Linked DNA regions of Homo sapiens. The protein of the gene in region 1 interacts with the protein of each later gene in a pairwise test. Each region holds a gene or a part of one and is shown in the gene's direction. Other genes may lie near its edges. The genes, in order: ZNF473, GPATCH2L, DHX57 and SLBP.

Region 1 (7,471 bases):
CATCAGCTGCTGGGTGAGTGGGCAAGTCCTCAGACCACTTAAACCCCAGCCTTCAAGTCTTCCTGCTAAGGCACAGGCACTGGGGAGCAGAAACAGGCCACCTCACTGTGCTCACTCTGAATTCCTGGCCCATAGGATCCATGGGCACAAGAAATGGTGGTTCTACACCAGTGAATTGTGGGACGATTTGTTCTCTAGACATAGTAACCGGGACAGGGAGTCCCTGCTGCACAGAGAGGTCAAGTCACTCACTTAAGACGGTTCTCATTTCATGACAGTTCAGTATGTGCAGACCACTGTGCTAAGTTCTCGGCAGGTATTATCTACAGAACCTTCCCAATCACCCTTTTCAAGGTAAGAATGATTTCCCCTTTGGGGAGATGAGAAGCAGAGGCTCAGAGAGCAAATGACTTGCCCAGGGCCACAAACCTCTTAAGCGGCGAGCCAGACACATGATTTTGTTTAATCTTTCCCTCCACTCTATGAGGTAGGGATGATTATCCCATCTTTGAAACCTACAAAATGATGCTCAAAGGGTGACAATTCTCCTTCCCCCAGACCTGACTCCACTCACCTAGAAAACAGTGGGGACGCAGCTGAAATCCAGAACCCAAAAGCCCATGTTCTTCACCTGGTGCCAATTTATACAACGAAAACGCAAAACCGGACTGGGTTCTTGGGGCAGCAGGTCAGAACATTCTTGTAGATTTAAATCTGGAAGCTGATGTTGGGTGTGGAACCACGGCAAGAGAGTCTTTTAACCATGTGCCACCCCCGGTTCTGACACCGTCACCAGCCTGGTCTAGGCCACCATCTCTCCCTTGTGCTACTGCAGCAGCCTCCTAACTAGACTTTCGGCTTCTACGCTTGTCCCTACAATCTATTTTCAACCCAGTAGCTTGACGGATCCACTTAAAATCTAAGTCAGACCCTGTCTGTGTCCCTGCCCTGGCCCATATGGTGGGTCGGACACGGTGGCTCACGCCTGTGATCCCAGCACTTTGGGAGGCCGAGGTGGGCGGATCACGTGAGGTTAGGAGTTCCAGACCAGCCTGGACAACATGGTGAAACCCCGTCTCTACTAAAAAAGTACAAAAAAAAAAATCAGCCGGGCGTGGTGGTGGGCACCCGTAATCCCAGCTACTTGGGAGGCTGAGGCGCAAGAGTCGCTTGAACCTGGGAGGCAGAGGTTGCAATGAGCCAAGATTGCACCGCTGCACTCCAGCCTGGGCAACAGAGCAAGACTCAGTCTCATAAATAAACAAATAAATAAATAAAATGTAAGTCAGACCCTGTCCCTCCTCTACTCAAAACCGTATGGTGGATTTCATTTTAGACAGAATAAATGCTGAAATTCCTACCATGGCCCAGGAGCCCCCTGTATGATCTGCCACTTCCCTGTTCCCTCTCTGACCTCTCCCACCTCTCCCCTTGCTCACGCTGAGTCAGCCACAACAGCTTCGGTGCTTTTCCCCAATCGTGACAAGAACGTTTCTTCCCCAAGACCTTTGCACCTGCTCTCCCATCTGCCTGGAACGCTGTCCCCCTAAGAGTGCACACAGTTAACTTCCTCATCACATTCTTTAGCTCTCTGTTCAAATGTCACCTTCTCAGAGACCTTCTTGGACACGATTTTACTGTGTTTTTTCTTTTCTTTTTTTTGAGATGGAGTTTGGCTCTTTTCGCCCAGGCTGGAGTGCAATGGCACGATCTCGGCTTACTGCAAACTCTGCCTCCCGAGTTCAAGTGATTCTCCTGCCTCAGCCTCCCATGTAGTTGGGATTACAGATGCGTGTCACCACGCCTGGCTAATTTTATATTTTTAGTAGAGATGGGGTTTCACCATGTTGGCCAGGCTGGTCTTAAACTCCTGACCTCAGGTGATCCCCCTCAGCCTCCCAAAGTCCTGGGATTACAGGCTCGAGCCACCGTGCCTGGCCCTGGACACCATTTTACTAATAGCATGTTTTATCCTCCTTACCTTGCTTTATTTTTCTTCACAGTGCTTGTCACTACCTGACATACTCTGACTTACTAGAATGTAAGCTTCATGATGGCGGGGACTTTTCCCTGCCTTGTTTGCCACAGTGTGCCCAGAGCCTCAAACAGGCCTGGCACAGAGCAAATGCTGGGTCTACGTCTGCTGAGTGAATAAATCATTGTCTCCTTTGCAAAAGAAAATGTGCCAAGAAGGTGGGTGGGGGGGGTCCCCAGCTGTGTCAGTACACATTCATCTCTCAGGCAAATCTAGACATCCAGCCAGAGACTCAAAGCTCAGGGCCGGAATTATCTAGCTGGATGGTCCCTAAAAAAGACGTGCCACTTAGAAGCAGATCAGTACAGGGGTTAAGAGGATAAACTTGGGAAATAATCTGCCTGGGTTTGGATCTTGCTTCTGCCATGTATTGCATGATGGACAGAGTTTTGCTATGTCACCCAGGTTGGAGAGCAGTGGCACGACCTCAGCTCACTTGCAACCTCCGCTTCCTGGGTTCAAGCGATTCTCCCTGCCTCAACCTCCCGAGTAGCTGGGATTACAGGCGCATGCCACCATGCCCGGCTAATTTTTTTATTTTTAGTAGAGATGGGGTTTCACCATGTTGGCCAGGCTGGTCTCGAACTCCTGAACCCAGGTGATCCGCCCACCTCGGTCTCCTAAAGTGCTGGGACTACAGGCGGGAGCCACCGTGCCCAGCCAAATTTTTTGGATTTTAGAACCTATTACATATTACAACACCGGCGAGATCCAGGGGCAACTCTCCATAAGTATATGATTTGCACAACAAAATCTTTAAAAATTCTAAATAGTCACACATCAGTTCAGAGTGGGTATTGCCAGCAAACAAGTTCAAAGCCAGGTGAGGTTGGCCTGCCAAGTAAGTTGCAAAACAGAGAAAAAGACCTTTCAGTTTTCAGAACGTTTTGGATTTTAAAGTTATAGATAAGGGACTGCAGACCTGTAAATATTCTTTAACATTTCTTTTTTAGTGTCTGGCATCCCCAACCACCCTGAGAATGTGAATTAGCTGGGCAGGATTTTTGTTTTAGACACTGCTATAATAACCTGGGCTTGAACAGTGCCTATTAGACTAGCACCGTTCAAACCCAGGTTATAGTAGTGTAATATCGGTTGCACGGAGCCTTCCATATAGTAAACGCTCAATAAAATTGGATGTGCTGAAGTCACCTATGCAATGGCCAGGTCAGGACTTGAAACCCTAAGACTCCAACCCTCAGGCCAGTCTTTATCTTAATTTATTTGACTTATTCAACAAATGTTTAGGGAACAGCTGCTATGCGTCAACTACTGTATAGTGTTCCTCCTAGAAAGTTCAGGAAACAGCACAGCAAAAAGGCTAAAAGTCAGACCCCACCTCAGCGCAGGTGGGGCGATTGCCTAGGCGACGACAGAGCCTCCCTTCGGCCGCACCTCCATAGAAACCACGGGATGACTTAGACGCCAAGTTTCACAGCGGAGGAGCTGTCGAACTTCCCACAAGTTCCGCCCATCTCCGCCTTAGCCATGCCCAACACGGAGCCCAAGGTGGCTTGGGAAGCTCAAGAGGAGGCCAGTGAACCCCGCGACCCGGAGCCGCTCTCATTCCGAACCCCGACAGCAGGGGCCTCCGCCTCCCACAAACGGTCGTGCTGACGTCACGGACGCCCCGGCCGAGCTGCGGCTAGGGGGTCGGGGGACGTCCCCTCGTTCGCCTCGCTTCCCCTCACCTCTGTACTTGGGGACTGGGGTGGGATTCTGGGCTTCTGCAGCCTGACCCTCGGATCCTCCGCAGTTACCCGGACTCACCTTCTCAGTTGCCCAGCGAAAACTTCCGCTGGGCGGAGAGCGCTGCGCGCGCATCCTGAATCTGAGGCGCCCGCGCAGGCGCCGCTGACTTCCTGACGGCCCCTGGGCTTCGCCTGCCTGGGAACTCCGTTTCCCAGATGCCTCCGCGGCAGGCCCGCCCTCTGATTCCAGACGGAATGGGGATTATTCCCTCATTGCTCATCCCCCTCCCCTCCGTTCTAGCCGCTTTGGAACGCCTTCTGGTTCTACTGCGCATGTGTCAGTGTCAGACCAATCGGAATGCACCGTGAGGTACCTCTCCACCAATCAGAGGTCACATTACCTAAACTTCTGCCTCAACTCCGCCCCTTACTTCCGCTTGTTTTCTCAGAAACCCGTCACAACGCGTTTCCATGGCAACCTACCGCTTGCTCTTCGGAAAAGGTTAACACTCCCTGACTTCTAGTAAAGGCAAGAAGCTAATTAGATGATTCTTTAACAAGGTAAAAATCTGGACTACAAACTGATGCCGCCTGGTCCTGATTCTCTTTCTACTCTACTCCCACAGTGCTAAGGCTGAAGAAGCAGGAGGAGATGGGAAGGCGAAAGAAGTCGCCCGCACAGCCCTCTGGGAAATAGAGTCCTGGCGCTGCCGCGGAGGATCCTGGGTGCAGCCGCTCAGAGAAGCTTCTCGCGCACAGGAAGTCGCTGCGAGGAGGCGCGTGTGCGGGGAGTTGAATCTCCCGCTCCCTTGAGGCTGGGGTTGCGTCTGTTGACGCGGCCGACTACAATCCCGAGGTACGGAGACGCTGGGGCTGAGGGACTTGCGGGCTCGGTCCTTCCTGAGAGGTGACGGAATGCAAGTGGGGGCGACTTCGGCAAAGGGTGCGTCGCCTTGGGCGGCGGTTGTCAGGGTGAAGGTGTGAACCGTCTTTCACAGTCTGTTATGAAAACCGCTCAAGGTCTGGGCACGGTAGATCACGCCTGTAATCCCAGCACTTTGGGAAGCCTTGGCGGGGGGGATCACTTACAGCCAGGAGTTCCTCGAACCCCCAGTCTCTACTAAAAATACAAAAATTAGTTGAGCGTGGTGGCGGGGGCCTGTAATCCCAGCTACTCAGGAGGCTGAGGCAGGAGAATCGCTTGAACCCAGGAGCTGGAGGTTGCAGTGAGCCGAGATCGCGCCATTGCACTCCAGCCTGGGTGACAGAGCGAGACTACATCTTAAAAAAAAAAAAAAAAAAAGAAAGGAAGAAAACCACCTTGGGAGGCTGAGGTGGGCGGATCGCTTGAGCCCAGGATTTCGAGGCTAGCCTGGGCCAGATGGTGAAGCCCTGTCTCCACAAAAGAAGAAAAAAATAGAAAAATTAGCCGGGCGTGGTGGTGCGCCCCTGTATTCCTAGCTAATTGGGAGGCCGAGGTGGGAGGATTGCTTGAACCCAGGAGGCAGAGGTTGCAGTGAGCTGAGAAAGAAAAGAAAAGAAAAGAAAACTGCTAAAGGGGTTTCCAGGCCTCCCTGATGGCCCTGAGAGGAGTGGTTCTGTTTTATTTTGGTTTTGGTTGGGGAAGGAGGGGAATGAGTTACCTGAAGTTGGCAAATTTAGGCAGAATCTTGCTGGACGATGGATGGGAGTTCTTCGGGAAGTTGAAGTACTTAACATTTACAGTATTTGAGTGCTTTCTGTGTGCCAGGCGCCCTGCTGGAGTTGCATTTCCTCTTCTGATCCCCGCAGCAGCACTGAGACATAAGTGCAGGTCCCCTTGGCACCAAGGCAATCTCGGGAATCAGAATTTTTCAGATTTTAGAAAGCTAATAGGGTGCATATTTTATAATTAGGCAGCACCCCCCCACACCCCGAGGAATCTGGGCCAGTTTTTGGTCATAAAATGTTTCTGTGGGGCAAGGTGTGAATATTCACACTTATGAGAACATTAAGACCCTACATGGCCTGTGGCAATCCAGGTGAAGTTTTGCGGTCAGTTTATAAATCAAGTTCTGGTTTTTGGAGCATTTAAAGGACCATAGATCTGTTGTATTTGTTCCATTTGGTACATGTGGAAACTAAGGCTTAGAGAAGGTAAATGGTCTGGAAGGAAGGGCAAGACTCTTGGGCCCAAGGTCTCTCAGCCTGATAATTGTTTGGCTTAAGTCACTCTGGGCTGGATGACCTTGGGCTCCACCTCTGGGCCCTCGTTTCTTTCCTCCCAGAGCTGAGAGTATATGAGATGTGGGCAGAATGTGATTTGGTAACTGCAGACAGGGATCTCAAGCTCAGCTGTCTGTGAGGGCCAGGCAGATGACATACAGGAAAGAAGAGAACTGGTCCAGGTGAGGCTGCGGGGCCTTGGGGAGCACTTGCCTCATCTGAAGGGGAGAATTGTGTTTTTTTTTTGATGACAGAGTCTCGCTCTGTCACCCAGGCTGGAGTTCGGTCTCACTGGAACCTCCACCTCCCCGGTTGAAGCGATTCTCCTGCCTCAGCCTCCCAAGCAGCTGGAATTACAGGCGTGCACCACCATGCCTGGCTAATTTCTGTATTTTTGGTAGATACGGGGGTTTCACCATGTTGATCAGGCTGGTCTTGGACTCCAAACTTCAGGTGATCCGCCTGCCTTGGCCTCCCAAAGTGCTGGGATGGCAGGCATGAGCCACTGCACCCAGCCGCTTTTTAAACTTAAATTTAATTTTTTTGGCCGGGTGTGGTGGCTCATGCCTGTAATCCCAGCACTTTGGAAGGCCGAGGTGGGTGGATCACGAGGTCAGGAGATCGAGACCATCCTGGCTAACACGGTGAAACTCCGTCTCTACTAAAAATACAAAAAATTCTCCGGGCGTGGTGGCAGGCGCTTGTAGTCCCAGCTACTCAGGAGGCTGAGGCAGGAGAATGGCATGAGCCCGGGAGGCAGAGCTTGCAGCGAGCTGAGATCGCGCCACTGCACTCCAGCCTGGGCGACAGAACGAGACTCCGTCTCAAAAAAAAAAAAAAAAACAAATTTAATTTTTTTTTGGAGGCAGGATCTTTCTCTGTCATTCAGGCTGGAGTACAGTGACACAATCATAGCTCACTGCAGCCTTGAACTCCTGGGCTCAAGTGATCCTCCTACCTCAGCCTCCCAAGCGATCCTCCTACCTCAGTCTCCCAAGTAGTTGGGACTACAGGCACGTGCCACCACAACTTGCTCATTTTTAATTTTTTTTTTTTAGAAACAAGGTCTTGTTACGTTGCCCAGGCTGGTCTCGAACACCTTTCAGCCTCCCAAAGTGCTGGGATTATAAGCATCCCCCACTTGCCTAGCACTGGTGGGGGAGCTTTAAATGGGCACCAGTGAACTAACTTCGTGGGATGTAGACCCAATGTTGCCAAATCCTAGGATGTTTCAGAAGTTGGAAACATAATTTTTAGGTGAAATTTCCCAATTTTCAAGTTTGAGACTAGTGAGCCATGCTTGAATTTTCTTTCAAAACATTCTGTCTGCCAACAAACATTATGGGCCAAATATCTGTCAACTGAGTTATACTCGTAGGTTGAGGCTTAACCTCTGACATGTAGAAAAACTCATTGTTCAGTAGAATTAGCATTTATTGTAGGTCTACCATATTCCCATATTTGTAGTCTCAAAAATCTGGACAACTCAGAACAACAAATTTTTTTTCATAAATTTAGTGTCCGTGCCTTACCTGAACTA
Region 2 (7,026 bases), on another chromosome or scaffold:
GGCCACGGATTGTGTGAATCAGCAGAAAATAGGACTTTCCTAAGCAAAACAGGAAGGAAAGAAAGGATGGAGTGTGAAACAGATGAACAAAAACAGGGCTCTGATGAGAACATGTCAGAATGGTGAGATCTCCCTTACTAAGTCAAAGATTTTCCTGGTTAATTTTTCCCAAAGTGCACATCCATGGTCTTAGTGGGTTCTACCTTCTTTCAAACCAGCCACTCTAGTATTGACTTTGAAGCCTTCCTTGAATCAATCAGTAGTTTAGCTTTTTAAGGTACCATTCATGAGTCTATTTCCCTCTGTCAGGAAGGCTATATGTAATAGAAACACAGTTGTTTCTAAAAACTGTTTAAAACGCGTACCTCAAATGCAAAACTAATAATTTTATTTTAAAAAACAATTTGCTGCTTATTATGCCATACAGTTTATACATAAATATTGTTGTTTAGAACTCAGGTCTCAGCAGAGGCTGGTGTGTGTGTGTGAGAGAGAATATGCTAGCGCCAGGTATACGGAGTTTATAAATGTTCCATTAAGTTGCCTGTCCTCATTAAGAATCATGGCTTTAGATGCTTTTTGGCTATAATTCTGTTTTCTGCTACTTGTGGTTTGATTATATTGAATTTATTTTTTTATGGCTGACATTCAAATTGTCTGAACACATGGTGGGCTTTGAAAATAACAGTACCGAGTCCCATTAGTCTTACATCAGATGTGATCAAGCCAGAAAAATTTGTCTCTAATGGGTACATGTTTAAAAATGTAAGTGTAGTTTTGGTGACTTTTTATTTTTTACATCTCAGATAGTCCTAGGAACATTGATACCCCCCAGCTTGATACTTTAATGTTATTAATATTAATCTGTGGTTATCTTTTTCTTAATAGTGAGGATGCCATTGGTGTTTTGGATGGGACAATTCTTTATGGTGCATTGCAGAATATTTAGCATCTCTGCATTATTCACACCCCCTTTTCATTGTATCAACCCAAAGGCCTCCAGGGGTGATCCCTAGGTGGATTGAGTACTCCCAGTTGAGAACCAGTGTATTCTATTATTGTTAATATTAGTTGGCATTTATTAAGCACTCAACTATGGGCCAGGCACTGTACTATGGACTTAGCATATACTCTTATTTAATGTTCACAATTCCACTATATGGTGGATACCACTATTTGTATTTACAGAAGGGAAGTTGAGGTTATAAGAGCTTAGATAATTTGCCTAAGATCACCCAGTGCCAAAACTGGGAATCAAGCCTGATTCCAAAGCTCATTCTTAACCACCATGTTGTGCTGCCCTTTGAGTTGTTCTGTCTCAATTTAACTTTCCCAACTGTAGAACATATGACCTTTCTGAAGTTTAGCTTAAAAACAAAGACATTAATCTTAGGAACACTGAGGTGAGGCTGTGTCAGTAACAGGAAAAACTGTTTAGGTCTGTATACCTGTACCTTTCTTGAGTGGTTTTTAATCCAGCTTTTAAACTTTTTCTTATTAACTTTATATTTGCCAGTCTGCAGACTATATTGAGATAGGCTCATAATTTGACTTTCCTAATTTTCCTCTAATGCCTCATTCCTTCTAAGGTCTATTTGCAGAATTTATATGTATATATTTGGATTATAAAGGTATTTTTCCCTCATCAGACTATTTTTAATCAAACAAGAAATGCTTAGTCAACTTGTAGCCTTTCACACTATTGAAACCCTCTATTGAGACATTCAAGTTTGTTTTAATATTGAGCATATATACCAAATAGAAGTCTTCTTAGTATTGAGAATGGTGATTTTAAAAGTAGCCTTTTGGGATAGTAGCTTTGTGTATGTTTCTTCCCCTTAATTTCTTGTTAAACTACGACATAATTGTATGTGAGAGAGCGACTGTTAACTCTGTCTGCTCTAACAGCCCAAGTATGGCTCCAGATGCAGAGCCTGTTTTCTAGCATGAGATGCTTCACTCTTTTCTGTTCCTTCTTACTCCAGACACATCTATTGCACATTCTAGTCAGGATGTAATAATGTAAATTCTCGTTATCTGAGAGTCTGGATAACTTAAGTGGATGGGAATTCTTATGAAATTCTTACTCTTTTCAAATTGAGGAGAACTCATTCACCCATTTGGGCTATTATCCTGGCCCCTCACTTCAGAGTTCTTTCAATATGTAGATGCTAAAGGGTTGTAGCTGTGAAGGAATAATGGGCGGAGTGGTGGCACACACGGCATTGAGGAAAGTTCTTTAAAATCTTCTAGTTATTTAGGAGTTCTAAATTCCCCTTGACTTGTCTCGATTCATTTGTAGTTACAAACAGAAGTGCTTTGTATTTTTTCCCCCTGAATCCATTCTGTGGGGAAAGGGGGTGATTCTTACTCTTTGACTGAATGTTGTGTTCAGCCTCTCTTCAAGAGGAGAGTGGAACTAAAATCTCCCTTAATTGTTAGGCACACCTTTAAAAAGGGCTGGCATTAGAGTGTAAGGAGATAATAGTATATGATTTGGATATTATACTGTCTTGATGAGTTGATTCTGTCAATAATTTTCTACTTTATTTTTTCCCTGCATTTTTAAAAGAAATACTTTCAAGAATCTTCTTGGTTACCCTTTCATAAATCTACTTGGATGTGCCACTGTTTATTCACATACAGATCAAAATGTAGAATTTTACTTTTTAGCAGTGGTATTGAGGGTTGTCAGAGTAATGATCCACATTGTAAGATTATTAAGATGAAGTTGATTGTTAAGCTTAGCTTAGCCTAGTCAATGGTAGCGTTTTTTTTTTCTAAAGCATGTATTAGATGTTTTAGATTTGAAAATGTGTGTCTCAATCAGCTTATTTCTAATTTCCTTAAACTCACTCTTTGCGACCTAAACATGGAGTATAGACTTCATCAATATTTGTTTGCTTTTCTGTTTCTGGTCTTCCTTTAATATTACACCAGCCAATCCCTCACAAGTTTTGAGGAACTAAAAATGGTTATAGTATAGTAGTTTTTTTCTGCTTGCATAGAGATCAAACTATTATTTTAATATTTTTCTGTGTATGTGTGTTTGTGAGTATTCTAAAGCAGAACAACTACTGTAAAATTATTTTCTACTGATCTTTATTTAAATTGTCTGTATAGCAACTATTAATAGCTATTAGCTATTAGGTGACTGTAGCCTAATTTTGCTCTATTCTTTACTAACACATCATTTGTTTGTTCCCCTTGAATATAGTTTAGCTTCTTTTTTTTTTCATAAGTGAATTGGTTGGGTGATGGCCAGAGGTCACATTCAGGAGCCTTCCTAAGGTGATGTATTAGAGGCTGATCTCACAGGAAAGAAAATATTCTCCTCTCTTGGAAGGCAAGTGACAGAGATAGAGTGCTAAACCTACCCACTCCTTCTCCAGCCCAGGCTGACCTTCTGCGGCCCTTTGGTGCCTCTTGTTTTCTTATTTTTATAGAAAATCAATATCCCTTCTGATACAAACAATAGCTCAGAAGCAAGAATAAGTGGGAGAAAGCTGAGATCTCTGTCCATCACCTCTCACTTTAACTCCCCCAAACTCTTTAATTATGAGTGTGCTTTGCTCCAGGTGTTTGTGACAGTGAAATTGCTAAATGAGGACCATTTTAACCAAAGATTGGGTGATCAATAACACTCTATAGCAGTAGCTTGTTGGATCAATAGCATTCATTATTTCATGGTTAAGGTAAGTAGCCTCCTTTGCAAGTGGAGGTCATTAATCAGGGTTTCCTGGAGCTGTGTAAAAGAATATGTATGGTAGGTGGGGGTGTTCTGTTTTCTATTCTGTAAGTAGGGATGCTGACCAAGAATATATTTACCATTGTTGCAGTTGGTAGTATTGCATGTGAGATTCTCGAATAGCTAGCATAGTGTGCTTATGTGGGTATATTCACAGTTCTGCTAGTATCCTTAGGGACAACTAAAACACACAGCTTGGGAGGTCGATATGATACTATTGTACTTGAAGGTCTATCTCTTGAAAGAAACATCCATCTCGTAAAAGAGTCTACCTCTTAAAAGAAATATTGGGATTGTTCTGTGTGGCTCCACAGGACAGAACTCAGGGATAGAGAGTACAGAGTGTTAAATGTTGCTGCGGTTAAAAAATAAGATTCTAAAAATTAGGACTCTGTAAAAATGAAGTGAATTGTTTCACCATGTAATGCGTAATAACTTCTAGATCAGGTGGGGGGATTCAAACATGGGCTTGATGACCGCTTACTTAGTTGCTGTGGAGTTGAGAAGGTTGAACTGAAGGCTTCTGAGATCCCTTGTAACACTGAGATGCTGCGATTCTTTTCAGTCACAGTCTACTTCCCACCATTGTAATGTCTTAACTGGTAAGTAGCCTCAACTGCCCACTTGAATTCTTGTGGTTCCCACTGGCAGTCATCTTCAAAGATTCATTCTTTCTCTCAACTTTTAGAATGATATTCCCTTTTCTCTTATTTCGCAGAATTTGTTCAAAGGCCTCTTGGTATTTGCCAGCAAGGGTGCATAGATTACCCTTGGTCCCCTTCTCTACTCCCGTGGACATAGGTAACTGCCATTCTCAGATCTACAGCTGGCCAAGAGAATATGCAGAGCCCCTAGCCCAGTGCTCCCAGTGCTACTGGGAGGCTTTTATCTCATACAGCTATGCTGGACTGAGATAGGATCATCTAACCCTCACTGCTTGATTCTGACCCCATTCCAGGAGTGTGCCGTAAATGAAGGTGTAGAAAACACTGCAGTCTCCAGAATGTACTGTCTCCAGAATGCACTTCTCTGCCCATGTCAACTGGAATCTTTGTTCTTGAAGACTATACTTTCTAGGACTCAATACCCTATAACTGCTTCCTACCCTCAAACACAAATACACACAGAAAACACTAAGCTTCCCTATCCAAGTGTATTCTGGGAGTTAGAGCCACCAAATAGAAACTGAAAGATACTCAGGCCGGGCGTGGTGGCTCACGCCTGTAATCCCGGCACTTTGGGAGGCCGAGGCAGGTGGATCACAAGGTTAGGAGATCGAGACCATCCTGGCTAACATGGTGAAACCCCGACTCTACTAAAAATACAAAAAAATTAGCCTTGGCGTGGTGGTGGACGCCTGTAGTCCCAGCTACTCAGGAGGCTGAGGCGGGAGAATGGTGTGAACCCGGGAGGCGGAGCTTGCAGTGAGCCGAGATCACACCACTGCACTTGAGTGCACTCGAGCCTGGGCGACAGAGCGAGACTCTGTCTCAAAAAAAAAGAAAAAAGAAACTGAATGATGCTCAATGGGAAGAGAAGGATAGAACCACACCCTGCCTCAACCTGTAGCTGCCTGATTTTCTGACTGAAACTGGCCTTGCATTTCTGAACTGCAAGGTGACTGTAGAGAAAGGATGCAGGGGCTTGCTATCTACCTTCAGGGCAGGCTCAGCACTTCTAACGTGGGCCTCCATTTCATTGTCAAGTGTGGTTCTATCAGCCTTGTAGTTTGAGGAAATCTTGGCAATAGGCCATCTGTATTCTCTATTGCTACAGAAAAAAATCGCCCTAAAACTTAGTAGCTCTAAACAAAGAGACCAAGTCTGTGAGTATGTAAATATTCCCAGGGAAGAAACCAAAGTGCTGGAGAAGAAGATACAACTGAAGAGAAAAAAGTGTTCTTGAGTTGAAAAATTAAGTCTTAAGATTAAAAGCGAAAATTAATGAGAAGAGACTTCTACTGAGACGGAGATTTTAAAAAAATATTTTATTTTAGTTTTTCTTTTTTTCACATATGCTCAAGACTAAGGAAAGAAAAATCTTAAAAGGGGTTGAAGACTGGGTGCAGTGGCTCAGACATTCTTAGATATGCAGGCCCCAGAATCCATGTTCTTTAAAAATTTACTGTGAGAAGACGTTCCATCTACCTGAAGATGAATCACTGTTAGCTCTAAGAAAAGGGAAGTCTTGAAAGGATGGGTGGACTTCTCTGAGGCACAGCCCCCAGCTCAATAGCAGAGTCCTGAGGAAAATTCTGTCTCTGCAAAGTATACCTGATTGTACTAGTCACAGTATCGAACCTGTCAACCTGCGGAGGTTGCTGCCTTTCATGGCACTGTCTGAATGAAACTGAAAAAGAAATTCTTTTATTATATATTCTCATTACTTATAGGAATAATTTCAGAACTGATGTGAGATATTTCTCTGAATAACCTCTCCCTCAGTCTTGTTTACTACTAGATTCAGAAGTCTGATTACAAAGGGTTACCAGTGTGCCACCTCTACCCTGGAAAAAAACTGGAAAACGATAGAACAAAAATACCTTTGGGCAGTAGATCTAAGAGTGACTTTTTTCCACGTTTTTCTAAATTCTGAAACAACTTTTATTTTTGTTAAGTGCATTATTATTTACTAAGAAAAGTTTTTTAGAATGACGATGTAAGCCATAAACTTTAAGATATCTATTAATTAGATGCAAAAAACACCTCTTATTAAGCTACTTGGTTAATAAGCTCTTAAATGGGGAGAAACAAACCCAGATGGTAATTTATTAATACCAACTTTTGATTGTAGGTGATAAAGTAATTCTGTACCTCCTTATTATAATTGGAACAGGTATAAGTTACTCTTTCAGTTCTCACTTTACAGTCTTCTGTGGTTAGGAGTATGAAAGAATTAGCAAGCTCTCAGATCAGAGGGTGTGCTGTGCTTTTTTCCCACCCCCTGCTCCCCCTGGCAATTTTGGGAATTCAGAGGGGTTTATTTTGTTGAAACTAGAAGCTACTGTTTAGGAAGAAGGGAATTAATTTCAACAAAGAGTTTATAAAGATTCTGTATTATCTGTTGCTGCAGAAAAAATTGCCCTAAAACTTACTAGCTCTAGGACGGGTGCGGTGGCTCATGCCTGTAATCCTAGCACTTTGGGAGGCCTAGGCGGGTGGATCACCTAAGATCAGGAGTTTGAGACCAGCCTGACCAATGTGGTGAAACCTTGTTTCTACTAAAAATATGAAAATTAGCCAGGCGTGGTAGCACAGGCCTGTAATCCTAGCTACTTG
Region 3 (7,026 bases), on another chromosome or scaffold:
AAATGTTTCATGTGTACTTCAGAAGTATGTATAGTTCGTTGTTGGGTGGAGTGTTCTATAGACACCTATTAGGTCTAGTTGGTTAGAGTGTTGTTCAAGTCTTTTATTTCCTTGTTGATCCTCTGTCTAGTTGTTCTACCATTAAAAGTGAGGTACTGTAGTCTCCTACTATTATTATTGAATTGTCTAATTCTCCCTTCATTTCTGTCAGTTGTTGCTTTGTGTATTTTGGTGCCTTATTATTAGGTACATATGTGTTTTTAATTGTTATCATTTCCTGGCAGATTAACCCTTTTATCATTAAGAAATATCCCTATCTCTAGTAATATTTTTTGCTTTAAAGTCTGTTTTGTAAGCTATTAACATAGCCACTCCACCTTTCTTGTAGTTGCTGTTTGCAAGATCATCTTTTTCCATCCTTTTACTTTTCATTTATTGTGTCTTTGAATTTAAAGTGCCTCTCCTGCAGACAGAATATATTTGGATCCTGTTTGTTAATCAAGTCTGACAATCTCTGTCTTTTGATTGGACTGCTTTATTCTCTCACATTTATTTTTATTGTCTATATACTGAGAATTACATCTAACTCTATTCTACTTTTGGATGTCTGTATTTCTCAATGTCTATTTTTTCTTCTGTTCTTACTTTATGCTTTCATTTGCATTTAGTCATTAAGTGAATATTTTCTAATGTAGTATTTTTGTGATTGCTTTGGGGTTTATGAACAACTTCAGATTTATATTAGCTTAATTCCAGCAATATTGCTATGGTTTGAATGTTTACCCCCAAAGTTCATGTATTAGACATTTAATTTCCAATGCAACAGTGTTAGGAGATGGGGCCTAATAACAGGTAATTCGATCATGAGGGCAGAGCCCTTATTAATGGTTTAATGTCACTAGCATGGGAGTGGGTTAGTTATAGCAAGAATGAGTTATTAGGCCGGGCGCGGTGGCTCACGCCTGTAATCCCAGCACTTTGGGAGGCCGAGGCAGGCGGATCACAAGGTCAAGAGATCGAGACCATCCTGGCTAACATGGTGAAACCCTGTCTCTACTAAAAATACAAAAAAACAAAAACTTAGCCGGCGGCGGTCACCTGTAGTCCCGGCTACTCCAGAGGCTGAGGTGGAAGAATGGCATGAACCAGGGAGGCAGACCTTGCAGTAAGCTGAGACCACGCTACTGCACTCCAGCTGGGGCAACAGAGTGAGACTGTCTCAAAAAAAAAAAAAAAAGAATGAGTTATTATAAAATAAGTCTGGCAGCTGGTACCTCTCTCTGTATCGTGCCCACTTCTGCCTTCCATCTTCCACCATGAGATGACACTACGCAGATGCCAGCATCATGCTCTTGGACTTCCCAGCCTCCATTACCATGAGACAAATAAACTTCTGTTGTTTATAAATTACCTAGTCTGTGGCATTCTGTTATAGCAGAAAACAGACTAAGACAGATACATAGAAGTATTACTTTTATATAGCTCTATTCCTTTCCTCCTTTTTATAGTATTGTTATACATATTATATCTATTAATGTTATATACCCAACTATACTTGTTACAAGTATTACTTTACTGTCTGTAGTCATTTTCTCAGCACAGCACAATTACGCTCCCACCAATCTTCTTTGTGCTGTTATTGGCAAATATATTACATACATATTACCTTCTTGTAGGTGACATGCCCAACATTATATCATATACATATTATTTTATATAACTGCTTTTTAAATCATTTCAGAGAAAAGAAGAGACAATACTTTTGTACTGGTTTTCAAATAAATAAATGTCCAATATAAATGTGGATTTTTAAAAATAATTACTCAATTACCTTTACTAGTACTCTTTGTTTTTTCATGTAGATTTAAATTACCATCCAGGGATACTTGCCTCAACTTGAAGAACTGTTAGTATTTCTTGTGAGGCGGGTCTATTGACAACAAATTCTCTCAGTTTTGTTTGTCTGAGAAAGTTTTCATTTTACCTTCATTTTTGAAAGATAGCTTTTCTGGATTTTTGGTTAACTATTTTTTGTTGTTTTTTTTTTGTTTTTTGTTTTTTGTTTTTTTGAGATGGAGTCTCACTCTGTCACCCAGGCTGGAGTGCAGTGGCGCAATCTCGGCTCACTGCATCTTCTGTCTCCCATGTTCAAGTGATTCTCCTGCCTCAGCCTCCGAAGCAGCTGGGACTACAGGTGTGTGCCACCACACCCAGCTAATTTTTTGTATTTTTAGTAGAGACAGGGTTTCACTGTGTTAGCCAAGATGGTCTCGATCTCCTGACCTCGTGATCTGCCCGCCTTGGCCTCCCATAGTGCTGGAATTACAGGCATGAGCCACCACGCCCAGCCCTATTTTTTTCTTTGAGTATTTTAAATATATATGTCATTACCTTCTGCCCTCCATTGTTTCTGTGAAGAAATCAGTCATTAATTTTATTGGGGTTCCCCCCTGTAAGTGATAAGTTGTTTTTCTCTTACTCCTTTCATGATTTTCTCTTTGTCTTTTGACCTTCAACATTTTTATTGCAACATGTCTATTTTGTGCATCTCTGTGTTTATTTTCTAATAGTTGGAGGCCATTGAGCTTCCTGCATGTAGAGGTTATTGATTTTTAATGAATCAGAGAAGTTTTCTACCATTATTTCTTTGAATATTTTTTCTGCTCTTTTCTTTCTTTCCTTTCCTTCTGGTATTCTCATTATATGTATATGGTACCCTTGATGGTGTCCCACATTTTTCCAAGGCTCTGTTCACTTTTCTTCATTTATCGTTCTCTCTGTTTTCAGCTTGCATAATCAATGTCAGTCTGTCTTCAAGTTCATCAGTTCTTTCTCTTGCTAGTTCATGTTTATGGTTGAGCTTCTCTAGTGAATTTTTAATTTCAATTAGTATACTTTTCAACTCCAGAATTCCCATTTGGTTCTTTTTATATATATAATTTTTTATCTCTTTATTGATGTTCTCAATTTGATATGACATTGTCATCATACCTTCCTTTACTGCTTTAATTGTGCATTCCTTTATTTCTGTGAACATACTTATAATGACTATTTTGAACTCCTTTTCTGTTAAATCTGACATCTGTTCTCACTCATAGGCAGTTTGTGCTTTTTCTCTCCAGTGTATGGGTTATACTTAAGTGTTTCTTTGCATGCCTTGTGACTTTTTTGTTGTTAACTGAACATTTTGGATAACATACTGTAACAACTCTGGGTACTGATTCTCCCCTTTCAGGGGCTTCTTATTGTTATTTGCTGGTTTAATTTTTAGTGACTGGCTAGAATATTTTAGTGAAGTCTATTTCCCTCCTACGATTTTAAGCCTCTGTTGTTGCTCCTCTGGGAGGTACAGCTTTAGGTATGCCCATGGTTGATTGCTGAATTGTTTTCAACAATGCTCTGGAGAGTAAATTCCTTTACAAACTAATCCAACCAAAGTATGGCTTCTTTGAAGCAATAGTTTCTGAGATCCCAGTTTAATACTCATTCTAATCCCAAAAAGGAACTTCCTAGTGATCTTATTCCTTGGTTTGCTTCCTGCAAACTAGTTGGCCAACAGTCTAAACTACATCTTCATTTAATCCTGTAATCTCCCTTTCCCCACAACCTCACTATTCTTGAAAGCACCTTTAGGTTTGAACTTCTCCACACTCCATTGTAAATGGAGTCAGTCCTTTGGAAAAAGATTAGGAGCTATCTGTCTTACGGCCTACTTCCCTTTTGCCCTTGGCAGAATCTCTGAGCCCAAGCTGTGTTCCTGATAGAGCATATATAAATTTAAATTTTGTCAAAACATATATTAAATACATGAAAACTTCTCAACTGGATTTTTAAAATCCTATGCTAGGCTGGGTGCAGTGGCTCACACCTGTAATCCAAGCACTTTGGGATGCTGAGGTGCGCAGATCACTTGAGGTCATGAGTTCGAGACCAGCCTGGCCAACATGGTGAAATCCCATCTCTACTAAAAATACAAATATTAGCTGGGCGTGGTGGCAGGCGCCTGTAGTCCCAGCTACTCCAGAGGCTGAGGTAGGAGAATTGCTTGAACCCAGGAGGCAGAGGTTGCAGTGAGCTGAGATCATCCGGCCTGGGCGACAGAGCAAGACTCCATCTCTAAATAAATAAATAAATAAATAAATAAAACTCTAAATTAGACCTAACCAAATGAGAATCTAGGATTAAAGCCTAGACATGTGTATTTTGACACTTCTCCATGTGTTTATGATGTACATCTTTAGTTTAGAAATCTGTATCAGAGACATTCACTAAATATTAGTCCTGAGGTAGAAGTGCTTATAAATCTTTTGTGAAGATTTATCCATACTATCCCTAAACTGGCTGGCTCTTTTTATTTTGTAGTTTTAAAATTTTTTCACTGGAACAGATTCAGAATCCTGCCCCAAGACCAGCTCTTTTTACATATGCATTTTCCTTTGTTTCTTTAAAGTAGCCTATATTCATAAGTTTGGCAAACAAAGGATTATCATACATGTCTGGTTTTATGATGTCTACATTAATTTTTTTCTCTTGCAGGTGAAAATGAGTTCTTCAGTAAGAAGAAAAGGCAAGCCAGGCAAAGGAGGTGGAAAAGGGTCTTCTAGAGGAGGAAGAGGAGGCAGGAGTCACGCCAGTAAATCTCATGGGAGTGGTGGCGGTGGCGGTGGTGGTGGTGGTGGAGGTGGCGGCAACAGAAAGGCCTCCAGTAGAATATGGGATGATGGAGATGACTTTTGTATCTTCAGTGAATCAAGGCGCCCTTCCAGGTCATTATAACTCTTTGAATGTTTAAATATGGAAATGGTATCAACCCCTAATGTATGGGACAACAGATGGCTGAGAATGGAAAAAAAGTCGAGTAATTCTGGTCAAATTGTCTTCCTCTTTGTAACCCTTTTCTGAAGACATGATGGGAAATAACAGCTTTTGTGTGTATGTAGGTTGCATGACACTGTGAATTGAGTGTAATACTGCTATTATACCCAGTGTTACTAGGAAAGTAAATACAGAAATAGTGTGATGAAAATTATTTTAAGTATTCCTTATGCATCATAGACTGATGTTAAAATGATGATGTTAACATTGAACATGGACAGGTACGGTGGCTCACACCTGTAATCCCATCACTTTGGGAGGCCCAGGTGTGTGGATCGCTTGAGGTCAGGAGTTCGAGACCAGCCTGGCCAATAGGGTGAAATCCTGTCTCTACTAAAATACAAAAATTAGCCAGGCATGGTGGCAGTCACCTGTAATCCCAGGTACTAGGGAGGCTGAGGCAGGAGAATTGCTTGAACCCAGGAGGCAGAAGTTGCAGTGAGCTGAGATCACACCACTGCACTCCAGCCTGGGTGACAGAGTGAGACTCCATCTCAAAAAACAAACATTGAACAGCCTAAAGTGCAACATGACTGTACTGTGTCTTTCTAGTTGATGAGCTGTGTATTTTCCAGCCAAATCAGCCATCATCTGATGGTGTTACATGTGGTGACCAGTAACAGATGCCTTATCTAGGTTTCTCTCCTGTTCAACTTTTAACTAATGAATAAATTATGGGAATTCTAGTAATTCTAATGAGTATTTAATAAAAGTAAATGTTTTGCTATTGCATGTTATACAGTATAACTACAATTAGGCATCACTTAGTGACAGAGATGTGTTCTGAAAAATGCATTGTTAGGCAATTTCATTGTTGTGCAAACATCATAGAATGTACTTACACAACCCCAGATGGTACAACCTACAACACACCTAGGCTGTATGATGTAGCCAATTGCTCCTAGACTACAAATCTATACAGCATGTTGCTGTACTGAATACTCTAAGCAATTATAACACAATGGTAAGTATTTGTGTATCTAAACATGTCTAGTTGTAGAAAAGGTATAGTAAAAATAGAGTATAAGAGATTAAAAATGATACCTATGTAGGGCACTTACCGTGAATGGAAGTTGCAGGACTGGATTTTGCTCTGGGTGAGTCAGTGAGGAAGTGGTGAGTGAATGTGAAGGCCTAGGGATATTACTGTACACTACTATAGACTTTATAAATAGCAAGCAGCATAGTCTCTCTATGTTGCCCAGGCTGGTCTTGAACTCCTGGGCTCAAGCGATTCTCCTGCCTTGGCCTCCCATAGTGTTGGAATTACAGGCGTGAGCCACTGTGCCTAGCCAAGAACCTAACTTCTGAGTTAGCTGCAGCTCCATAGTTTTTCAAAACATGGACATTATAGGTTCTTGGAGTCCGTAGATGTTCATTCATTTGGTAAGTATTTACTGAATGCCTACCATGCACCAGGCACTGTTTTAGGGACTTGGAATTGCAGCAGGGAGTAAAATATTGTCCTTATCTAGATAGAATGGGATTTGAGATAGAAAAACCATAAACAAATGTATAACATTACCAGGTGCCGCATGCTATGGAGAGAAATAAAGGAGTGTAACAGGGATATAAAATACCAAAATAGAATTGTTAATTTATGTAGAAAGCCCCCCTAATAAGGTATCACGTGAAGAGAGGCAAGAAGTAAGTAAAGGAATAAGCTGTGAAGTTCTGAGTACAGCATTCAAGGCAGAGGGAAGAGCAATTTCTTAAGGCAAGAATGTGCTTGGAAGGTTTAGGAAATAGCAAAGAACCATGTGGCTAGAATGAGTGGGCAAGAAGGCAAGTGGTAGGCAATTAGATCAGAAAGACCAGACTGTATAGGACTTCATGGGCCATTATTAGGACTTTGGCTTTTACATGAAGTAAGACAGAAGGCCTTTGGAGGGTTTGAGGCAAGGGTGTGTGATATTATCAGTCAGTCTGGCCAGAGTTGTTTCTATTCAGTGTATGCCTTTATGTGAATTAGAAAATGGTGCTCCTTCCTTTGGACAGTTATAGCCCCACACCAGGATCATGGCTTAGCCAGCAGAACATGGACCGGATTTTGCTGTCCCTTCCTCCCTCTTCTTCCCTCCCAGCCAGGAACCTTTGTGCAGTGTACAGTCTATGAATCTATACTCAATAGCATTGACTGGGTGTGCTTTG
Region 4 (7,026 bases), on another chromosome or scaffold:
TTTCACAACTTACTGTGCCATATTTTTATGGCCAGCTTATACAGGCACTCGATAAGCCTTTTTCCCAACACCCCATCTCTACTAAAAATACAAAATTAGTCGGGCATGGTGGCGCATGCCTGTAATCCCAGCTACTCGGGAGGTTGAGGCAGGAGAATCCCTTGAACCCAGGAGGTGGAGGTTGCGGTGAGCCGAGATCACGCCATTGCCTTCCAGCCTGGGCAATAAGAGTGAAACTGTCTCAAAAAAAAAAAAAAGACAAAAGACTTGGGTCTACGGGTGGGTACAGAAGAGGCCCTAGGTCCAGATATGAAGGGAAGGTAAACAAACCTTATTGAGATCAAGCTCTGAACTCTCCAGTGGTCTCATTTAGCTGAAGATAAAAATATTAAATCCTTACAGTGCTTTAGAAGTTATGGAAGTTTTTGGTGTCCTCATTCCTCAAACTATAGGAATGCTTCTGTCCTAGGGCCTTTGCACTTGGTATTTGCACATTGTGGATAATGCCTGGAGGCACCTGACAAATAGAGCCAGCTCGTTGATGGATAAGATCTAGAAGTACTCTTTGGAAGGTTGTTAGCTTAGTGTGTAAAATTAGGCTTTGTTGTCCCAAGATAGGGTAGATTATGAATATAACCTACTTAATCTAAGAAATGGACTTAAAGATACCAAAATATGGCATGTAGTATATGGTCATTCACATACACAGGCTTTAAATTATTCTTGTAGTTCAGGAATTTGTTATGTTGGCAGACCCAGACTTGAACCTCTTGATACACTAGTGAGGATGCTTGTATCCAATCCTGGACAAACCTCTATTGAGTCAATTTAATTTTCAGTTAATTACCTAATTTGATTTCATAACTTTCTACCATTTTTAGAATCTGGAAATTTACTTTTAGAAATCCAATTTAAGTTTATCTGAGTTGTGTGACTGTAAGGGAAGAAATGATAATTACATAAGAGGATTATTCATTTGTTACTGCAATTGCATTTTCAAAGCACAGCATTTGGTTTACAGCTAAAATAGGTTGCTTATTTGTTGTAATTAAAGTTAGTATCTAGTGTATTTTTTTGTGACGGGGCATAACTGTCAACCAGGCTGGAGTTCAGTGGTGTGATCTCACCTCACTGTAACCTCTGCCTTCCAAGTTCAAGCAGTTCTCCTGCTTCAGCCTCCAAGTAGCTGGGACTACAGGCATGCGCCACCACGCCCGCCTGATTTTTTTTTTTTTTTTTTCGTTTTTGAGATAGAGTCTTGCTCTGTCGCCCAGGCTGGAGTGCAGTGGCGCGATCTCAGCTCACTGCAACCTCTGCCTCCCGGGTTCAAGCAATTCTCCTGCCTCAGCCTCCTGAGTAGCTGAGATTACAGGTGCGCACCACCACGCCTGGCTAATTTTTGTATTTTTAGTAGAGACTAGATTTCACCATGTTTGTCAGGCTAGTCTCGAACTCCTGACTTAGTGATCAGCCTGCTTTAGCCTCCCAAAGTGCTGGGATTACAGGTGTGAGCCACTATGCCTATCCTAATTTTTGTATTTTTAGTAGAGGCAGGGTTTCATCATGTTGGCCAGGCTGGTCTCAAACTCCCGATCTTGTGATCCGCCCGCCTCAGCCTTCTAAAGTGCTGGGGTCACAGGCATGAGCCTGTGCACCCGGCCCAGTATCTAGTTTTAATGTCAGTAGTGATCAACAGAAAAATGGGGTAGAAAAATAAAAATGTGAGTTTATGTCTGATGTATAAATAAGATACATCAATTTGAACTGCCAGAATTTGGGGCTCGAAGCCTTAAGCTTTTGGATTTCCTGATTATTATTTTTTAAATTTTAATTATTATTTTTTTTAGATGGAATCTCGTTCTGTTGCCCAGGCTGGAGTGCAACCTCCACCTCCCAGGTTCAAGTGATTCTCCTGCCTTAGCCTCCCGAGTAGCTGGGATTATAGGCACCCACCACCACACCCAGCTGATTTTTGTATTTTTAGTAGAGACAGCGTTTCACCATGTTAGCCAGGCTGGTCTTGAACTCTTTTTTTTTTTTTTTTTTTTTTTTTTTTTTTTTTTTTTTTTTTTTTTTTTTTTTTTTTTTTTTTTTTTTTTTGAGACGGAGTCTCGCTCTGTCGCCCAGGCCGGACTGCGGACTGCAGTGGCGCAATCTCGGCTCACTGCAAGCTCCGCTTCCCGGGTTCACGCCATTCTCCTGCCTCAGCCTCCCCAGTAGCTGGGACTACAGGCGCCCGCCACCGCGCCCGGCTAATTTTTTGTATTTTTAGTAGAGACGGGGTTTCACCTTGTTAGCCAGGATGGTCTCGATCTCCTGACCTCATGATCCACCCGCCTCGGCCTCCCAAAGTGCTGGGATTACAGGCGTGAGCCACTGCGCCCGGCCTGGTCTTGAACTCTTGACCTCAGGTGATCTACCTACCTCGGCCTCCCAAAGTGCTGGGATTACAGGTGTGAGCCACCACGCCCGGACTATTATTTATTTATTCATTTATTTTTTGAGACGGGGTCTCTCTCCCCCAGGCTGGAGTGCAGTGCACGATCTCGGCTCACTGCAACTCCGCCTGGTGGATCACTGCAACTTCCACCTCCTGGGTCCAAGGGATTCTCCTGCCTCAGCCTCCCTAGTAGCTGGGATTACAGACACGCGCTGCCACGCCTAGCCAAGTTTTTGTATTTTGGTAGACGCTGGGTTTCACCATGTTGCCCTGGCTGGTCTGGAACTCCTGAGCCCAGGCAGTCTGCCAGCCTCAGCCTCCCGAGGTGCTAGGATTACAGGAGTGAGCCACTGCCTGGCCATAAATTTCCCAATATTGACTGAAGACTATCTTGAACTTGAGATGGAACTGAGCTCCTGGATGTGGTTTAACTCAAGCACAGGGGGTACTTTGCCAGTAGACGGAGTCCTGACACAGCAAGGACTCTGACATATACTCCTCCATACACATTGTAATCATAGTGTACATAACATTCTGAATTATTAATTACATGCGCCCGAAAGGTAAATGGATATGCTAGCTATTCTGTATTTTATTTATTTTCTGAGACGGAGTCTCTTGCTGAGGCTGGAGGAGCAGTGGTGCAATTTCGGCTCACTGCAACCTCCGTCTCTGGGGTTCAAGCAGTTCTCCTGCCTCAGCCTCCCTAGTAGCTGGGGCCTACTGGTGCGCACCACTGCACCTGGCTAATTTTTGTATTTTTATTAGAGATGGGGTTTCGCCATGTTAGCCAGGCTGGTCTCAAACTCCTTACCTTGGGTCATCCACCCGCCTCGGCGTCCCCAAAGTGCTGGGATTACAAGTATGAGCCACTGTCCTCTGCCACCATATATATTTTTTTGAGATATGGTCTTGCCCTGTTGCCCAGACTGGAGTGCAGTGCCAGGATCATGGCTCACACAGCCTTGACCTCCTGGGCTAGAGTGATCCTCCTGCCTGGGCCTCCTGTGTAGCTGGGACTACAGGCACGCCCCACCATGCTTGGGTATTTATTTATTTTGGAGATGACGTTCCAACCTTTTTATTAAAATCAACTTCTCACAATGTATAAATACTGCATATTAGCACACATGAAAAAGACAACTTCTAAGGCACCCAGAAATACATTCATACACGTTACAGGACCATTTGCAGAGTGGACAATTTGCTGTAGACAGTCAGCATTGGATAAATCAGAAGATTATCATCCCTCAGTACTGTACCCAGTCTCAGTAAATATTTACAACATGGTGAGAAGGTGTCAGCTGTACCTGCTTTATAATTCTATGAAGTACTCAGACTTACAGATAATTCAGAACTAAAGACAGTCCCATGATAATCTGACAAAATAAAACAAGTAGTCTAAAGTCTTAGTGATTTTGGTGTGTGCTACATCCATGATCAAATCCAAACACTCCTGGGGTGGGCTGGATAAGTTTTTGGTAGCCTGCTTCATTATCAGAAGTTTGTTAATAAGCCTTGCCAATAGAATACCATTTCTTCAGCATCAGTCATTTCTCAACTGGTTAATGGATCAGTAATCTCATCATGAATGAGAATGGAGAGAGAACAGAAGACAATTCTTCTCACACTTAACAGGAATTAGGATGGGTCAGTGCAGTCTGGGTACGGTGGCTCACAGCTATAATCCCAGTACTTTGGGAGGCCGAGGCAGGTGGATCACCTGAGGTCAGGAGTTCGAGACCAGCCTGGCCAACATGGAGAAACTCAGCCTGTATTAAAAATACAAAATTAGCTGGACGTGGTGGCTCATGCCTGTAATTTCAGCTACTCGGGAGGCTGAGGCAGGAGAATCGCTTGAACCTGGGAGGCAGAGGTTGCAGTGAGCTGAGATCATGCCATTGCACTGCAGTCTTGGCAACAAGAGTGAGACTCCGTCTCAAAAAGAAAAAAAAAAAAGAATGGGTCAGTGCAGAACAGGAGGAGGCAGACATTTGGCAAGTACAGGATCATACTGTTTAGTATAGACATGTCTGGAAAATTCTTACCCTGGAGGTTCATATTCAGATGGAGGAGTCTACACTGGCCAGATAACCTGGAGGAATGCCAGACCTGCACTTTTATTATATGGATACAGGCTTGGGACTACACAGCGGAAACACCCACCTGAGATAGCCTCAATTAGAGACTTACCTTGCAGAGCCTTCTCAGTATGACAGCGAATCCCTCTGTATGGCCAGCCAGGGGAAGCACGAGGTTGCTGGAAGTGAGTAGTTGCTCTGCACCGTCAAGCATGCACACATCTGTCTAGATGTGCCCGCGATCTGTGAAACTCGGGCTTTGTTAGAATAATGGAATTCTTTGGTGGTCGGTTTTATGAAAGGCAATATTGTCACAATCCTGTCAACATTGACATTGGTAATGACTTCAAGCTGGGACTAATGGCATAGAGACAAATTAAATACAAGATGGGAAACTCTACACTCTCTGAACTTCTTAGAGTCAACTTCATAAGCTCCAGCATCAGGCCGGATGTTGGATCAATGAGATAAGGTTAACCCATAGAAATGCCAGAACTGAAGCTGAAAACTAGATATGGGTTTTTCTGACTGCCACACACACTGCAAAAATTTGAAGCAAATCTCCCATCTTAATGACTTTATAAACACATACCAGAGATGAACGAAATAAGTTGATTTCAGCCATATGATAGCCCTGGACTACTGAAGTGTGGACACCCAAAAGGAATCATAATTTAGTTTGAAGTCTAAAATCTAGTTGGTTTTATTAGACCCCCAAACACAGTGGGCACACTGCCAAGGAGCTCCATGACTTCTGCTCTAGTAAGACAGCCCTGGATAGACAGATGCAGCTGATAGGTTATGTTCTACATCTAGTTTGCTTTTGTCCTGCTAAACTCCAGTTTAGTATGGTTTGATACACATAGTTCACTGATATAATGCTTTTATTTTTTTGGGTGGGGGACAGAGATGAGGTCTCACTATCTTGCCCATGCTGGTCTTGAACTCCTGGGTTCAAGTGATCCTCCTACCTCAGTTTCCAAAGTGCTGGTATTACAGGCACAAGCCACTGTGTCCCACCAGCCTTTGAATATTTCTTGACATACAGTTTGAAAGAAAACAAAGTATGTGTCATGGTTCAGTAGCATTTTCCTTTTATTGCAGCTTTACCACTCCTGAAGGCCCTAAACCCCGTTCCAGATGCTCTGACTGGGCAAGTGCAGTTGAAGAAGATGAAATGAGGACCAGAGTTAACAAAGAAATGGCAAGGTACACATTTTGGACCACCTTGAAGTGTTAATCTGTGGCGTTTTCAGTAACACATTAAATTTGATATTTGTCTTAGAACAGTGGTTTTCAAAGGTCTGGGCTCCAGACCAAAGGCATCAACATTTCCTGGGAACTTGTTAGAAATACAGATTCTCAGACCCTTCCCTGGGCCTGCGAATGGGGTGGGGCCTGGCCATCCTGTGAAAAGCCCTCCAGGCGGGTCCACTCTTTCAAGCTTGAAGACCACTGTCCTCTTGGTGGTAATCCTTCCAAGAGTGGAAGTAGGTGCACAATGGTGTTACTGCTGGATTGCAGGCTGGAGGACTATCAGAACTAACTTTCTTTTTTTTTTTTTTTTTTTGAGACAGTCTCGCTCTGTTGCCCGGGCTGGAGTACAGTGACAAGATCTCGGCTCACTGCAACCTCTGCCTCCCGGGTTCAAGCGATTCTCTTGCCTCAGCCTCCTGAGTAGCTGAGATTACAGGCACAGGCCACCACGCCTGGCTAATTTTTGTATTTTTTGTAGAGATGGGGTTTCACTATGTTTGTCAGGCTGGTCTTGAACTCCTGATCCGCCCACCTCGGCCTCCCAAAGTGCTGGGATTACAGGCATGAGTCACTGTGCCCGGCCTAACTATCAGGAACTTACTATAGTCATTTGTTACCACCGACCTTCTGTGTGCGGTGCTCACACAACCCAGCACAGTAGATGGAGTGCTCTCTCCAGATGAAGGAATACATTGACACTTGGCTTAGGCAACAAACAGCTCAGAAATGCCAACATACAAGGAAAGGTCTCAAACTTGGATTCTGTGAACCTCTTGCAGTTGCACACAAGATTGTTGTGTGTATCCAAGTTCTTGCAAACTAAGCTACTTCGTCTTCGTTGACTCATTACCTAATGCATCCTTAACCATGTTTAATCTCCCTTGATTATCAGTGTGTTGATCCTTTCTCTTTTGATGAGTTGTCTAACTCAAACCCAGTTGCAAGGACTGGGTTTATTCAAACCCAGTTAAAATGTGGCTCATAATTGGTTGAAGTATTTTACAAGATAATTTTAGCCAACAAGTGGCTGATAAACAGGGTCTCAAGAAAAATGTGTCTTGCGTGTCAGCCGCGGAACGATACCTAGACTACCTGTTTTCATTTTGGCAGCCAGTGATGGTATTTATATCAGCCTCCTTTGAAAAGGGACGGGAATATGTGGGAATTGGTTATTGAACATTTGGGGGAGTTATTTGTCATTTCTTCTGGTATCAAAATGTGTGGGTGGATGTATGCCTTGGTAGAAGA

Evidence for each region.
Region 2: the proteins of ZNF473 (region 1) and GPATCH2L interact in binary tests that used the Homo sapiens proteins (3 or more experiments, as listed by UniProt).
Region 3: the proteins of ZNF473 (region 1) and DHX57 interact in binary tests that used the Homo sapiens proteins (3 or more experiments, as listed by UniProt).
Region 4: the proteins of ZNF473 (region 1) and SLBP interact in a two-hybrid assay, tested with the Homo sapiens proteins (one study listed by BioGRID).

The regions. Positions count from the first base shown.
Region 1 is NC_000019.10:50,021,541-50,029,011, forward strand, and holds the start of ZNF473 (zinc finger protein 473), read left to right. Parts: upstream 1-4,464; 5' UTR 4,465-4,582; intron 4,583-7,471. UniProt on the Homo sapiens protein: Involved in histone 3'-end pre-mRNA processing by associating with U7 snRNP and interacting with SLBP/pre-mRNA complex. Increases histone 3'-end pre-mRNA processing but has no effect on U7 snRNP levels, when overexpressed.
Region 2 is NC_000014.9:76,154,904-76,161,929, forward strand, and holds part of GPATCH2L (G patch domain-containing protein 2-like), read left to right. Parts: coding exon 1-122; intron 123-7,026.
Region 3 is NC_000002.12:38,865,922-38,872,947, reverse strand, and holds part of DHX57 (putative ATP-dependent RNA helicase DHX57), read left to right. Parts: intron 1-4,536; 5' UTR 4,537-4,542; coding exon 4,543-4,766; intron 4,767-5,715; exon of another isoform or gene 5,716-5,839; intron 5,840-7,026. UniProt on the Homo sapiens protein: Probable ATP-binding RNA helicase.
Region 4 is NC_000004.12:1,702,300-1,709,325, reverse strand, and holds part of SLBP (histone RNA hairpin-binding protein), read left to right. Parts: intron 1-5,625; coding exon 5,626-5,730; intron 5,731-7,026. UniProt on the Homo sapiens protein: RNA-binding protein involved in the histone pre-mRNA processing.